Homo sapiens: one gene and its partner. The protein of the gene in region 1 interacts with the protein of each later gene in a pairwise test. Each region holds a gene or a part of one and is shown in the gene's direction. Other genes may lie near its edges.

The links.
Region 2: the proteins of ATF6 (region 1) and DDC interact in a two-hybrid assay, tested with the Homo sapiens proteins (one large-scale study listed by BioGRID and IntAct).

The regions. Positions count from the first base shown.
Region 1 is NC_000001.11:161,772,804-161,776,630, forward strand, and holds part of ATF6 (cyclic AMP-dependent transcription factor ATF-6 alpha), read left to right. Parts: intron 1-3,827.
Region 2 is NC_000007.14:50,555,259-50,559,085, reverse strand, and holds part of DDC (aromatic-L-amino-acid decarboxylase), read left to right. Parts: intron 1-3,827.

The DNA.
Region 1 (3,827 bases):
CAGATGTTACTTCACCTCTTGCTGTTACTGCATTTCTCTACTGTATGTTACAGCAGAATTCCTTTTAAAAAATGTCCACGTTCACTGACTCTAGTTTTTTATTTCTCCTTGTCTCTTGAACCCAGTCCAGTCAGGTGCCACCACTCCACTGAAACTCCTGTTTTTTTTTTTTTTTTTTTTTTGAGACAGAGTCTTGCTCTGTTGCCCAGGCTAGAGTGCAATGGCACGATCTTGGCTCACTGTAACCTCCACCTCCTGGATTCAAGCGATTCCCGCCTCAGCTTCCTGAGTAGCTGAGATTACAGGCGCCTGCCACCATGCCCGGCTACTTTTTGTATTTTTTTTTTTTTGAGACGGAGTCTCTCTCTGTTACCCAGGCTGGAGTGCAGTGGCTCACTCGGCTCACTGCAAGCTCCACCTCCCAGGTTCACGCCATTCTTCTGCCTCAGCCTTCCGAGTAGCTGGGACTACAGGCACCTGCTACCACACCTGGCTAAATTTTTTTTTGTATTTTTAGTAGAGACGGGGTTTCACCGTGTTAGCCGGGATGGTCTTGATCTCCTGACCTCATGATCCGCCTGCCCACCTTGGCCTCCCAAAGTGCTGAGATTACAGGCGTCAGCCACTAATTTTTGTATTTTTAGTAGAGATGGGGTTTCACCATGCTGGCCAGGCTGGTCTCAAACTCCCGACCTCATGTGATCCACCCGCCTCGGCCTTCCAAAGTGCTGGGATTACAGGCGTGAGCCATCATGCCTGGCCTGAAACTGCTGTTTTTAAGGGCACTACTGATTTCCACATTGCTAAACCCAGTGACTGTGTCTGATCTTATTAAACTTATAAGGAGTAAATGAATAAATAAATGGGCAAGGTGGAGGTGAGGTGGGAAAGTTTGTTGAGTACACTAAAAATAGTAACTACCATTATTTACTACTGTTGAGGGAAATCTAATAGTGTGGGACTGGTGCAAAGGATATAGAAATAGGCAATAGGTTTTAGGATACTTTGGGGTAACTGATGCTAACAGTTTCTTATGGATTCTTTTGGAATGTTCTATAAATATACGAGTATATTTATCAACCCACCTTCAGTTATTTTTTTAACCACAGAAAAGTCAAAAGATCAGTACACTGATAAACGTGCGTTTTCCTTATCTAGATTTACCAACTGTTAACATCGTGCCACATTCACTTTATATCTTAATATTACCCACACTTTCCTCCTTTTTCACATCTGAAAGTGGGCTGCAGATAATATGAAACTCCTAAACACTTCACCATGTATTTCCTAAGAATGAGGAAATGTTTATTTTTAAAAAGCATCAATTCATTTTAATATGCTTTATACTTCAAAGCTAACATCACAGGGTTCTTTTTCACCTTCTTGCACCATATGCTTGTATTTCTCTTCTGCCGCTATGAGAATCCTGATTCCCAATAACATCCTTTGTTTTTATAGGCTCACTTCAGCAGCTCTGTTGGAAATAAACTGAAAGAGGGGCAAGGGCAGAAGCAGGGAGACGTTTTGGAGGCTGTTATAGCAATCCCCATGAGTTACAATAGTAGCAGTGGAGTAATGAGAAGTAGTTGGATTATGGATATGTACACACACACACACACACACACACACACACATACACACATATATATACATACATTTTAAAATTTTGAAATAGTTTGAAATCTATAGAAAAGTTTTAAGAACAGTGCAAAGAACTCTTGCATGCCTTTTACACAGACTCCTCAGTTGTTAAATTTTACTGCATTTACTCAATTTCTCTCTTTCTCCCTTTCAAGAGAGAGAGATGTGTTGACCCATCACCTTTAAATACTGTAGTGTATACTCTCTATCCTCCTGCCTCCCAAAAGAAGGCCACTTTCCTCTATTACTACCCTATATTTCTTCCAGTCAGGAGATAAACATTGATACAACAGTGTCATCCAATTCAAAGACACCATTCAAAGTTTGCCATCTGTTTCAATAATGATTTGCTTTTCTAGTCTAGGATTTTACTTGCAAACACTCATTGCTTTTACTTATCATGTCTCATCAGTGTCCTTTAATCTGGAACAGTTCTTTAGTCTTTTCCTGTCTCTAATGTCCTTGACAGTCTTAAAGAGTAGAAGTCTTTTATTCGACAAGATGATCCTAAACCACTAAGGGGTTCCTTGGAAAAATGACCAATTCCAGGGCTGGGAAAGTGCAGGGAAAGTGCAAAATAAGCCTGGAAAATCTTGGGCCAGAAATTCTCAGCAAATGAACATGTTAAAAAGAACAAAGGCCCCAATATGAATGAACTCCCCGTGGTCAAATCTGGGAAAATTTGGCATCAGAATAAAATGAGGGTATACATTATAGTGTAAATACTATGCGATGTTCCTATGCCATCATATCATCCTGTGATATAGTCACATGATCACTTGGTCAAGTTGGTATCTTCTAGGTTTCACCACTGTAAAGCCACTGCTTCCCATTTTGTATTTTATTGCTATTTTGGGGGAGATAATCTGACATAACACCAATATCCTTTTCTTATTAAACCTCTAACCACGAGCCCTAGCCTCATTAATAACCCCAATCTATATCAGTTACCACTCTAATGGTTGCCAAATGGTAACTATCTAACTCTATCATTCTGTCTATCATTCTATCATTGTTGATTGACATTGCACTATAAGAACCAACCTACCTACCTACCTTCCTTCCTTCCTTTGTTCCGTGATGAACTCATTGATTCCTTTTTTATTTGGTGGTTGGTAAACCGCTACTCTCATTTTATTCTGATGCTCAGATTTTCCCAGATTTGACCACTGAGAATTCATTCATATTGGGGCCTTTGTTCTTTTTGACATATTCCTGTCATTTGCTGAGAATTTCTGGCACAGCAAGATTTCCAGGCTTATTTTGCACTTTCCCTGCTGCAAGCCCTGGAATTGGTTATTTCTCCAAGGAACCCCTTAGTGGACTTCTGTTTGGTGGAAGATGGTATTTAGTATCCAAGATCTGGTCACCCAGTATTTTCATTGCTACTGGGATGTCATTGCTTCTAGGACCTCTTAGCAGACAGAACTAGGAAATATATATACATGTGTGTATATATATATATATGTGCATGTGTATATATGTATATATGCATAATACAAACATCTGCATATGTGTGTACATATATATATACTTCCACAGCTATCTGTATGTGTTATATTTTAAATGAGTTTATTTACTAATACTTCTAGTTCTAATCCAACATCTTAGGATTCTTTTAGTCTCCCGACTCTTTCCATGCTCTTAAATCCTTTCTCAGACTGTGAGAAATCTGACTCCAATTATTTTAGTAAAAGGCAAAAGATTCATTCGTTCTGAAGAGAAACCAGAGCATTCTAATTATTTTAGATATATTCAACCATTTGCTCAGTCACCTAACATATTTGTTCAGTATGACCACTCTCCTAACCACTCAGCCTGCGTTTTCCATCTGCTACTCCATTCCCCCTCCCACTGGGCTGGGGCATGCTGGCATCTTTGCTGGGCAATAGTCTCTCCCACACCATCCTATTTCCTTGGATATGAGGCATATTGCTGGAGATGACTGTGCACAAAACCCCATCACCTTTGTTGCCCTGCTTCTTTGGAAGCTGACATCTCTGTGTTGGGAGGGGTAGGGAAGAAAAGGAAGGTTGGGAAGGGAAGGAAGAATGGGAGGAAAGGTAGGAAGCCACATTACAGATATATATTTTGAGAACAGAGCTGACAGAATTTTCTGGTAGATTGATTATGGAGAGTGAGGAAGAGAAGTAAATAATTAAGTAATAATGATCCCAAGGTTTTTG
Region 2 (3,827 bases), on another chromosome or scaffold:
TGCTGCCCTGTATATGGCAACTATTCAACATTTCTTCTGCTTTGGAGGAGGTAGAGGAGAGGCACTTCTCTTGGGGCATGGAGGGCAGCAGAGTTTGTTGAGCCTCTGCCTGTTTCTGTTGGGATCAGCCCAGGTGGGTGGAGGCAGACGTGTGTCTGCGGGCTCAGCACTCCCACCCGAAGCCACATTCCCCTGTTCTCTCATGTGCAGTGAACCAGGCAGGAGCCCTGGACCACACTCTGGGTTGCAGGCACCACCTTCCCCATCCCCAGTGAGAGCCCTGTTTAGAGTCCTGTGGTCTCATCTCTGGCCATGGTGAGGACACAGGCAGCTGACAGTGGAGGTGTAAGTGGATTCCCAGGCCAAAGGTGTGTTAGGAAAATGCTGGCTTCAGAACACCAGCACCCACTCCTTCACTTACTGGCTGTGTGGCTGTGGTCAAGTTAAACAGCAATAACTCTACTGGCCTGGCAGTGTTGTGAGCGTGTTCAGTGAGATAATGTATACCACGAGCTTATCAGGAGCTTGAGCACTGCTGATTTGTTTGGTTTCTTGGACAATAGGATGTGGCAACCAAAGTTCAACAGATTCTCAGGATTTTTTCTTGGAGGGGGGCACCTCAAGTGCAGGCTTCTTAGCAACACCAGGCCCCAGGCCAGCAGCTGTTCAATATGAGGAATAGGGAAGCATTCACTGTGAATGTAGAAGTCAATATTTACCACCAAATTGGCTCATAAGGACTCCCCAAAGAGTGTACCAAAGCATACTAAATAGATTCACAGTGCAGGTGTCCTGTGTTTGTAATAGACGGTAAACCAGGACATGTCATGGGCACTGGATATTATGACTATGATGAAAAGAAGCAACCAACTAGAACATAATTCGAATTGTCTCAAGCCAATAGCAAAGGCAGATGGTTATGATCTCTTGTGAACTATTAATGTGACTGCAAGAGAAAGGGGGAAAGAATTGAGAAAAAATAAGGGAAAAAATTTGTAAGGGGGGGGGTGATTTCTGAAAAGTTTCTTCTGACATAACTCTTCAATAAAATGAAAACAAAGGAGAAAAGTTAAAATTACCTAGTAGTTATCATATAAACTTTCAAAATTAGCAACCATGAATGAAAATAATAAAATTTGAATGTTTTAAGGTTTAAAGTTAAAATGTGAATGAAGGAGCAAAGCTTACAGAGATGGAGTGTCTATGCTCAATGCCTGATGGTGGGTGACATTTCTGTATCATTCCAGTTTTTCAAAAAGAAATTGACAACACGCAAAAAGAACTGTACAACTCACATGTCTCAATTCCACTGGGGAATTAATATCTTTGAGAGACAGACCCAATAGGTGCGACCTATATGGTGATGGTGGGGTGGCATCTACTCATGACGGTGCTGCCCATAACAGCAAACAGCTAACAGGCAAAGTGGGGATGGATGGTGTCATAGGAACACGGTGAAATCCCCACTCAGCAGCCCTTAATAAGTGCAAATAGGAGCGTTATGTTAAGGAAATTCTGCACCTTGTAATTAGGCATAAAGGAAAAATGTCAAGTGAAAAAAGGATCCCCAGTCATACACACATCCTCATTCCAACTATTTGAATTGTCTACGGTCAGGACTAAAATGGAATAATATCAATCAGTTTCATGTCCTTGGCATTCTTTTTTGTCTTTGGAAGTTGCTCAAGTTATGAATTTTTCCAGCCAGCATTAACTAAGGTCACAGCATGGTTACAGAGATATGAGTGGAAGTAGCATCTTTCCATGGGAGGAAAACTGAAAACCAAGACAAACTTCTCTATGGCTCCTTTCCACGGATAATTGTTGGCCAAGAATCTACTTTGACAGAGCATTGTTTATTAAACAGGGAATGAATAAGAAACAGCTGCACAAAGCTCCTTCCTCCTTCATGTCAGCAGAGGAGCAAGGCTTTCCCCTGAATTTTGATCTTTGTTTGTTGTAGAAAATTTCTCCCTTTTCTCTTATGCTACCTCAGGAGAAGAGGCTTCTGCCTGTCTTTTGTAGCATCAATAATAATAATTGCTAGACACAGGTTTACAGTCCAAAGTGCTCTCTGCCTGCATGAGCTTGCGGCCCCATTTTATAAGTAAAGAAACAGACTCAGAGACTCCAAGACGTCAGCCAGCAGCTGCATGCCTCTTGCCGCAGAGCTATGGGCTCAAGCTGTTTTCTCTGAATGCAAATCCACCATTCTTTCTATTCTTCATGAGGAGGAGGAGGAGGAGGACTGTCCTGTGGAATTGTAGTGCTGAAAGCTTAGCTCCACTTGATTGTGGCAGTTCCATTTTCCAACGCAGACCAATCTCGCCAAGGAGGCCAGCTGGGCGGAGTGGGACTTAGGACCCAGTGCAAAGTCCCTTACAGGAGTTCCTTTCTGGACAGAAACTCCCTTGAGATGATGGATTTGATTCCTCCTGAATTTGCACAGGTGTGGAGAGTGAAATGCTATGCTTCGAGCATCTACTTTGTAATTATCTTGTACTCTCTTCATGGTTTTGTGTGGTGCCTAGGATGATGGCCATGGTACAGATTGCAAGTGGAGCTGCAATGGAGTGGACGTGTGTGTTTCTCCCAACATTCCTATGTTGAAATCCTTGCCTGCAATGTATTAGGAAATAGGAACTTTGAGAGATGATTAGGTCATGAAGTCAGAGCCCTCATGAATGGAATGAGTAACCTTATAAAAGAGACCCTAGAGAGACCCATCACCCCTTTCACCATGTGAGGACATAGAGAGAAGGCTATGTCTATGAGAAACAAGCCTCACCAGATACCAAATCTGCCGGGGCCTTAATCTTGGACTTCCAGCCTCAGAACTCTAAGAAATCATTGTCTGTTGTTTATAAGCTGCCCAGTCTATAGTACTTTTTATAGTAGCCCAAAGGGACTAAGATAGGGGGCTTGGCCACGGTCTCACCTCCAGCCAAGAGCTGCCCAAACCCTTTCTCTTTCTGGTTACCATTTGTAACGAACATGATCTATAAGCAAACAAGGCACCGTGGAAGCTGCGGTGCCCCTGTGGTCCTCAGTAGGCATTCGGGAAATCATTCCTTGCAGCCCTAGGAGAAACTGGTATTACAAGTTTCTAATCCTGAAGTTACTTAAGCCATGCTCTTTTCATCAACTGATATGCATCTGGCTACAGCTGTTAGAGATGCTCTGTACCTGTGTTTGAGTCCAGGACATTCTCTCAGGTGCCTTCAGGAGCCAGACTGCAGGAATTCAACTGTGGCCTCATCTGACTACAGCAGGTGTGGAGTCTTGGTTCAGTTGTGCAGCCTCTCTGCGCCTCGGTCTTCTCATCTGTTAAAGGGAGTAATAGTAGTCCTGACAAGGTTCTTATGAAGATTAAATACGAGAACCAGGCAAAGAGCTTAACGTGGTTCTTGGCACATGTAAGTTCATATCAATGTTAACTATTTTTTAGACCAATGAGAGAGTGCCTATTTAAACAAGAACACCCGGGTTTACATAAAAATAGTGGTACAAGTGTAAGACAGTCGCAAGTGTGTGTGCGTATGTGTGTGTGTGGTGCCCTGGCTTTATTGTGTCAATTATAAGTAGAGACACTTTGGCCTACAGGATGAAGGAAACAGGGGTTCTGCCTTGGCTTTGCTGCAACCAGCTTCACACCTGGGACAGTCCTTTCCTTCTCTGGGTCCCAGGTCCCTCCCTTTTAAAATGAGCATAGTAATAGCTCTCACCAATAAAGCATTAAAGGAGCTAAGATGTCAGCCTGTCCTGGGTCTCGTTTCCAACAGATCTCTTGTCTCCCCCACTGACTCCAAACCACACAAGCCATGCTT